3 separate regions of the Homo sapiens genome follow, and all the other regions are linked to region 1. The links come from fine-mapping of genetic effects on gene expression. A gene starts in region 1. Each other region holds a variant in brackets. All regions are shown on one strand. Distances are between the middles of the regions. Region 1 holds the start of ZNF286A (zinc finger protein 286A). Region 2 overlaps NCOR1 (nuclear receptor corepressor 1). Region 3 overlaps ZNF286A-TBC1D26 (ZNF286A-TBC1D26 readthrough (NMD candidate)).

Region 1 (2,702 bases):
AACACTAAATAGGGAAGAAATCCATCCAGTGTTATAAGTAGAAAACATTTTCTTCTGAGTCCATTAGTCTCCTGACTAGTCTCTTAGATTTAGAACTCAGCTCTGCAGATGGGCTTTAGTGGATAAAGAAACTCCACATCACAAAGAAGGGAGTGCATCTGTACTCTAAGAAACAAGGTGTAATTCCAATAATCAGCACTCACTCACCTGGGATCTGGCCGTGAGGCGCAGAGCAGCCACTTCTCCCTCTTCTGTGCTCTTCTCTTGGAAATGGGGAGAATCCTGGGAAGACAGAGCTAACGACAAGAAAGCAGTAATGATGAGACCTAGGCTTAACGTGCCACTCAGATTTAAAGTCTAAAAACCACTTCAACATACTATATGTGCTGCCTACAAACACTGAGACTGAAGGTACCCCCAAAACAACCGACCTCCTCCCAGGACCCTCTTCCCGGGATATGCGGGAATATTGCTACTCTGGGCTCGAATTCAGTTGCTATAATCATAACACATTCTGTAAGATGGCATCCTCTGATCTAGAAATTAGAATATGTCAGTAAATTTCCCAGTTTAATCTATACTCGTTGGTTCTCACTCTGAAAGCTTATTTATAATGTAGATTGCTGGACCCCACCTCAAAGTAATAAGCATTAGTTGAGCCTGGGGTACAATCCAGAAATCTAACAACCACCCCAGGGGGAATTCTGGTGTAGGAGGTCACAGCACAACCTTCATGAAACTGGTCAGGTAGAATGGAAGTCAGTCATTAACTACTACGCCTGTTTTCTCCTATGTAAAACAAAACATTTTTGACAACCAAAGAGGTGAATTCTTGCCATAGAAGTTAACATTTCACTCACATTTTGGGGGTAGCTTTGAAGGGTCCACTGTGTGCCCAGCTGCCATGGAAAGGGCGGTGCTCCCATACCAAGCCCTTCAGTCTCACTTAAAAAGCCCATCCATCCCCAAGACAATGGAGACAGCCAGCCAAGAGCCACCTCCCCTGAGCCAACCGTTTTCCCTTCAGGAGCAGGAATTTCGTCCTTCCACGCTACAAGTTCAACACGTCCGCAATTCTCACCTCCTTTCTCAGGCATTTCAGCCAAATCTGTCTCCATGATCACCACCTCCTCCTTGTTCTGGAGATTCTGCTCTTCACCCCAATTCAGATCTCCCTGGCCAGACGAGTTAGAAGCCCCCCGGGCCTCGTGGTCCCACTTCCTGCCTTCCCTCCTGGGCTCTGATGAAAGGCCTGGGTTAGATCGGGTCTCTTTCTCACCGTGGAGTCTGCCTCAGTCCTACGGCGCTGGAGCCTGGAAGCCCGGGGACAGCATCCCTGAGGCTGGGTCCTCAGATGTCTGTCCCTACCGCTTGAAGCTGTCCCTGGGGGAACCGGGCACCTGGAAGAGGTGACGCTGGGGCATCAGGAGTTTGGACAAATTCTGCCGCGCTCGGGGCACTGGCCCAGAACCCCGCGACCACCCCGCCCGTGGCACAACCGCGTCCCCCGAGGAGAGGATCAGGCCAGAGTGAGAAGGGACAGGGCTCATGGTCTGCCCTCGAGGCCCCTTTAACAAACGCGCACTCTAGCCCCGACTCGGCACAGAACGACCCGGGGAACCACCGCCGAGGCCGAGCCGAGACGAGCGACATCACCACAAGCAACTCACCTCCCATCCCGGGCCTCACAAAGGGGACGAACTTCTTTGGCCAGCTCGGAGTCGCGCATGCGTAAGAAGGAGCGGAGCCAGGCGTGCTGCCCTCATCCCGCCCGGAACTACAATTCCCAGAAGCGCCTTGGCATCGCCAGACTCCGGTTCTCCGCAGGTGGGAGCACCCGTGGTGCGGCTGGGAGAATCGGACGATCGAAGAGCTCCGTCCGTCTCGCGAGAGTATGAGGCAGCATCTCCTGTGTCTAATCCTCAGAGCAAGGGAGGGAGGGAGCAGCGGAGACGCGGACCGGAGTCAGGGTCCGTCCCCGCGCTTTGTCTGCACAAGTTCCTGCGGCACAGTGCTTAGGGCTGCTGAGTTCAACCCAAATTACTCCGGTGTAAGATACGTTAAAATACATAGCTTTTATCCATATTTTGTGCGCCCAGAACTCATCCTTTTGCTTTCAAAACATACGAAGGATGTTTTTAGGAAGAGCAGGTCCCTCTTTGTACACTCAGTCAGATGTTCCTGTATCCACAGACTACTTGTAATCCTAAAATTCATGTATTTAAAATGAGTTGAAAAGATTGAACCTGTTGTAACAAATTTAAGCAATAGGTTCTTTGCAGACATAAGCATTAGTTTAAACATATCATAAAAGGTGGTTCTTTCAAGGGAGAGTTATTCAGTCTCTCCAATTCTGTTAGAGGACTAACCCATCCACCTCCAGCTTCGTGTCTAGACTGCCCTCCTTTTCTCAGTGAATGACATTACTGCCCACTCACTCATTTGCACAAACCAGAGCCTGAATATTCTTAACTCTTTGATCTCACCATCTATTTATCACCAAGTCCTATTCATTGTATCTTAAATAACTCAATTGTTTCCATCTTTCTCTATTCTCAGTAGCATTACCTTAGTTGGGGCCACCACCATTTCACTAGGATTGCCGTTGCAGCCTGGTAACTGGATTCCCTAACTAAGGTTTTCTCTACCACCAATCTGTTCTCCACACTTTCTGGCTAGTGCTCTTTCTAAAACAAGAATAT
Region 2 (2,500 bases), 490 kb before region 1:
TAACTACCTTTATACTTGCTTTGATTTCATGATGTTGTTCAGTTTTTGGTTAATAATTGATTTATGATTATTTTAATACTAGGAGTTCGCAGTCCCTGATTATCGTTCCTCTCATCTTGAAGTGAGTCAGGCATCACAGCTTTTGCAGCAACAGCAGCAGCAACAGCTTCGAAGGCGACCTTCCTTGCTTTCAGAATTTCACCCAGGTTCTGACAGGTAATGAGGTTTCTTTTATGTTTCTATCTAGGATTATAATTGTGAAGTATACAAGTTTGTCATTATTTTATTTTTTTACTTTTTATTAACCAAGCCATGACTGGTCATTTATAGTTTGCATTTTGAGTTCTTTTTTGTTGGTTGGTTGCAATAGTTAACAAGCTCTTAAAACTTGTTTCCATAGTTTGGCATTAATATTATTTAGTAGAAAGGCAGTAAACCACCTGGTCACCTGTGTGTCCTTGGTTATGTTCTATAGACTTGGGCTGCACATTAGAACCCCTTGGGATGCCCAAGCCTCATCACAAAACACTTAAATCAATCTCTGGAGTTGGGCCCAGGCTTTATTTTATCGCCGAAGTTTTTCCGGTAATTCTGATTTGCAGCTAGGGTTGCCAGTCACTGATCTCAACTCTTCAAGCTTTAGTTTTCCCTCCTATAAAAATGGAGATAATAGTGGCATTGTCCTCAACTGATAGTAAATATTCTGTCAGATAATGTAGGTCCTGTACATGCATGGTGGGTTCTCTTTTTCCTGAGTGTCCTTACCATCTCTGCTTTCTTTTACTTCATTCTCATTCTGAAAGTTTTGTTTGTTTTTTCTTGTTTTTTGGAGACAGGATCTTTCTAGCTCTGTTGCCCAGGCTGGAGTGCAGTGGCATGATCATGGCTCATTGCAGCCTCAACCTCCTGGGCTCAAGTGATTCTCCCACCTTAGTCTCCCAGT[C/G]CTGGCTAATTTTTTGTATTTTTTGTAGAGATAGGATTTCGCCATGTTGCCCAGGCTAGTCTTGAACTCCTGAGCTCAAGTGATCCACCCACCCCTACCTCCCAAAATAGTTAATTCTTTTTTTTTTTTTTTTTTTTTTTTTTGAGAAAGAGTCTCACTCTTGTCACCCAGGCTGGAGTGCAGTGGCATGATCTCAGCTCACTGCAACCTCCGTCTCCAGGGTTCAAGTGATTCTCATGCCTCAGCCTCCTAAATAGCTGGGATTACAGGCATACACACCACACCCAGCTAACTTTTGTGTTTTTAGTAGAGATGGGGTTTTGCCGTGTTGACCAGGCTGGTCTTGAATTCTGGGCCTCAAGTGATCTGCCCGCTTTGGCCTCTCAAAGTGTTGGGATCATAGGCATGAGCCACTGCACCTCGCCAGAATTTTTTTTTTTAAATTGTGTGTATTTAAGGCATACAACATGATGTTATGGGATACGTATAGATAATAAAAAGGTCACTATGGTGAAGCAAATTAGCATATCCATCATCTCACAAAGTTATTTATTTTTGCTTTTGTTTTTATTTTTGCTTTTGTGGCTGGACCGACTAAAATCTACTCATTTATCATGAATCCCAGATACAGCACTATATTATTATCTGTAGTCCTCATGTTGTACATAAGAAATCTAGACTTTTTCATTCTATGTGTCTGCTACTTTACATCCTCTGACTTTCGTCTCCCCATTTTCTTTCCACCCCCTGCCCCTGGTAACCACTGTTAGCACTGTTTTGTTCTCTTTGTATAGTTCCTTTTTTTTTTTTTTTTTTTTGTTTAAGATTCCACATATAAGCGAAATCATGCAATATTTTACTTTCTGTGTCAGGTTTATTTCACATAGCATAATGTCCTTCAGGCTTATCCATGTTGTGGATGGCAAGATCTCATTTTTTTTTAGGGTTGAATAATATTCCATAGTGTATATATACCACAGTTTCTTTATGATTCATTCATTGACAAACACTTAGATTGTTTTTATATCTTGGCTATTGTGAATAATTAGCTGCAATAACATGGGAGTGCATTTACCTTTACAAGATGGTGATTTCATTTCCCTTGGGTATATATCCAGAAGAAGGATTGTGGGGTCATGTGGTAGTTCTATTTTTAATTGCTTTAGGAACTTTCATACTGTTTTCCATAATGGTTGTACTAATTTACGTTACCACCAGCAGTGTACAAGAGTTCTCTTTTCTTCATGCCCTCATTAATATTTGTTATCTTTTGACTTTTTTTGGTAATAGGCATCCTAATGGGTGTGAGAATATCTCATAGTGCTTTTAATATACAGTTCCCTGATGACTAATGATACTGAACATCTTTTCATATACCTGTTGGTGATTTTTACGTTTTCTTTTGAGAAATGTCTATTCAGATCTTCTGCCCATTTTAAAATCAGGTTATTTGTTTTTCTGCTATTGAGTTTTATGAGTTCTTTATAAATTCTGGATATTAATTCCTTAGCAGATGCATAGTTTACAAATATGTTTTCTGTGTCTACAGGCTGCTGA
Region 3 (2,853 bases), 29 kb before region 1:
ACAAGACTACAGAAAGCAATGAAAGCAACACTAAACTGGGAGTTTGCTGGCCTGTGTTTCTAAGAAATTTAATGTTTTTACATAAATAATGAAGAAGAAACGACTTTTCTAAAGTTCCTGTCATTTATGCCATGGATTGGACTCTTCTGTGAAAGCAGTTTTATTGATGGATGTGGATAATTAGCTTAACTTCAAGTAAAAGATTAGAGAGCAAATTGTAAACATAACTGTGCTTTTTTACACTCAAATGACATTAATCAGACAGTTTTGGATCTCTAGAAATATATATTAGAACATGTAAGTTCTATATTGAAATACGCAAGTTTGGAATCCTTCAGGTGGCTTATTTTTCATCAACTAGAAATAATACTAAAATTGCAAAGATTTATTATGATTTATATTATTTGTCCTAATGGAAAAAGGAATTCAAATATGTTTATTAAAGTATAATATACACAGGAATCCTATTATTCTACTACTCAGTGATTTATCACAAAGAGGACACATGCTTGGAGCTACCACACAGTCCAAGAAAATGAAATAAAAATAACAATCTGGAAATCCCTCTCCTGAAGGTCTGCTCCCTAACCACTGCCCACCTGTCTTGTCAAAGCAAAGAGTCACCTGGTTTTTAGCAGCCCCAATTAGTGTTGTCTGTTTCATAAATGGAAGCATGGAGGGCCATTCAGTAGGAATGGTTTTGTGTGTGGCTTCTTTGGCCCAGCATTACATTTGTGACACTCCTTCAAGTGGTTTCATGAAGCAGTTCATTTTTTTTTTTTTTTTTTGAGATGGAGTTTCGCTCTGTCGGCCAGGCTGGAGTGCAGTGATGCGATCTCGGCTCACTGCAAGCTCTGCCTCCCAGGTTCACACCATTCTCCTGCCTCAGCCTCCCGAGTAGCTGGGACTTACAGGCGCTTGCCACCATGCCCAGGTAATTTTTTTGTATTTGTAGCAGAGATGAGGTTTCACTGTGTTAGCCAGGATGGTCTCAATCTCCTGACCTAGTGATCCATCCGCCTCAGCCTCCCAAAGTGCTGGGATTACAGGCGTGAGCCACCGTGCCCGGCCCAAGCAGTTCATTTCTTTTCCCTGCTCGGTGGTGCTCTGCATGAATATGGCACATCTATCAATTCTACTGTTGATGGACATTGGTTTGTTTCCATTTTGGGACTACTAGCAATAAAGCCACTATGAACATTCTTGTTAATTT[C/T]TTTTGGTACACATGTATAGATATTTTAGTTAAGTACAGCCCTACAAATAAAATAGCTTGGTCATGGTAACTGCATATGTTCAAATGCAACGCATGTCACTAAAAATGTCAGCTAGGAGGAAAAGCTCAAGAGCTCTATTGTACAACATGTTGACTACAGTTAATAACAATGTGGTAATACTTGAAATTTTTGAGACAGCAGATTTTAAATGTTCTCACCACAAAAAAAAAAGATAAGTATCTGAGGTAACTGATATGCTAGGTAGCTTGATTTAGCCATTCTACAATGTCTGTCTGTTGCTATACATATATATACACAGATTTAGCTATTCTACAATGTGTGTGTGTGTGTGTGTATGTAAAATGTGGTATAGCATAAATACATACAATTTATCAATTAAATTTTAATTCCAAAGATTTTTTTGACTAATATATAACCCAACCACAAGTTTGAGAGTTCTAATTAGATGTCCTTTCCAACACCTGATTTTGTCAGTCTTCCTTTTACATATTCTGGTTAGTGGATAATGTTATTTCGTTTTCATTTATTTTGGTCTTCTGATTATTAAAAGGCCTGATACCACTTTCATAAATGTTTATTGAAAATGTATATAATCAGGCTGGGCACGGTGGCTCATGCTTGTAATCCCAGTACTTTGGGAGGCCGAGGTGGGCGGATCTCTTGAGGTCCGGAGTTCGAGACCAGCCTGGCTAACATGATGAAACCCCGTCTCTATTAAAAATACAAAAAAAAATTAGCTCGCCATGGTGGCAGGCGCCTGTAATCCCAGCTACTCGGGAGGTTGAGGTGGGAGAATTGCTGGAAACCGGGAGGCAGATGTTGCAGTGAGCCAAGAACGTGCCACTGCACTCCAGCGCGGGGGACAAGAGCGAAACTCGCATGGTGGTGCGTACGCCTGTAATCCCAGCTACCCAGGAGGCTGAGGCAGGAGAATCGCTTGAACCCGGTAGGCAGGTTGCAGTGAGCCGAGATTGCGCCATTGCACTCCAGCCTGTGCTTCAAGAGCGAAACTCCGTCTCAAAAAAACAACAAAAAAAGAAAATGTATATAATCATATTTTCAGGGGTCTATGCAATTTTTTATACTTTTTCCAATGTGGTTATCAATCTTTCTAAATGATCTTCGAGAAGTTTTTAAAAATAAATTCTTGACATAAATTTTTGGGATTTTGTCAGTTAAAGGTGGAAATATCTTCTCTTTAAGAAAGAGCTTGGCTGGGCGTGGTGGCTCACGCCTGTAATCCCAGCATTTTGGGAGGCCGAGGCGGGCTGATCACGAGGTCAGATCGAGACCATCGTGGCAAACACGGTGAAACTCCATCTCTACTAAAAACTACAAAAAAAAATTAGCCGGGCATGGTGGCGGGCGCCTGTAGACCCAGCTACAGGCTGAGACAGGAGGCAGGAGAGGAGGCTGAGACAGGAGAATGACGTGAGCCCGGGAGGCGGAGCTTGCAGTGAGCGGAGATCGCACTCCAGCCTGGGCGACAGAGCCAGACTCAGTCTCAAAAAAAAAAAAAAAAAGAAAGAAAGAAAGAAAAGGAAAAAACAAAGAGCTTATTAGGCCGGGCACGGTGGCTCACGCCTATAATCCTAGCACTTTGGGAGGCCGAGGCCGG

The links. PIP is the estimated chance that this variant, and not a neighbour inherited with it, causes the effect.
Region 2: its variant is the best candidate, but not a certain one, in a credible set for the expression of ZNF286A in whole blood (INTERVAL, PIP 0.58).
Region 3: its variant is the best candidate, but not a certain one, in a credible set for the expression of ZNF286A in whole blood (INTERVAL, PIP 0.78).

Annotation. Positions count from the first base shown.
Region 1 is chr17:15,698,746-15,701,447 of GRCh38, reverse strand. It overlaps ZNF286A (zinc finger protein 286A), which reads right to left and starts at 1,696. Exons shown (of 6, transcript NM_001130842.2): 1 at 1,671-1,696; 2 at 1,082-1,313; 3 at 208-296. The coding sequence starts at 1,118. ZNF286A-TBC1D26 (ZNF286A-TBC1D26 readthrough (NMD candidate)) reads right to left here and starts at 1,696. Exons shown (of 23, transcript NR_171000.1): 1 at 1,671-1,696; 2 at 1,082-1,400; 3 at 208-296. RefSeq lists enhancers at 1,573-1,892, 1,903-1,952, 1,388-1,999.
Region 2 is chr17:16,184,270-16,186,769 of GRCh38, reverse strand. NCOR1 (nuclear receptor corepressor 1) reads left to right here. Exons shown (of 46, transcript NM_006311.4): 3 at 83-216. Among named protein-coding and RNA genes, the nearest start is that of NCOR1, 30 kb to the left of the region's middle. The variant C/G (reference allele first, on the strand shown) is at 944.
Region 3 is chr17:15,727,382-15,730,234 of GRCh38, reverse strand. The region is part of intron 6 of ZNF286A-TBC1D26 (ZNF286A-TBC1D26 readthrough (NMD candidate)); the gene reads right to left. Among named protein-coding and RNA genes, the nearest start is that of TBC1D26, 3.5 kb to the left of the region's middle. The variant C/T (reference allele first, on the strand shown) is at 1,214.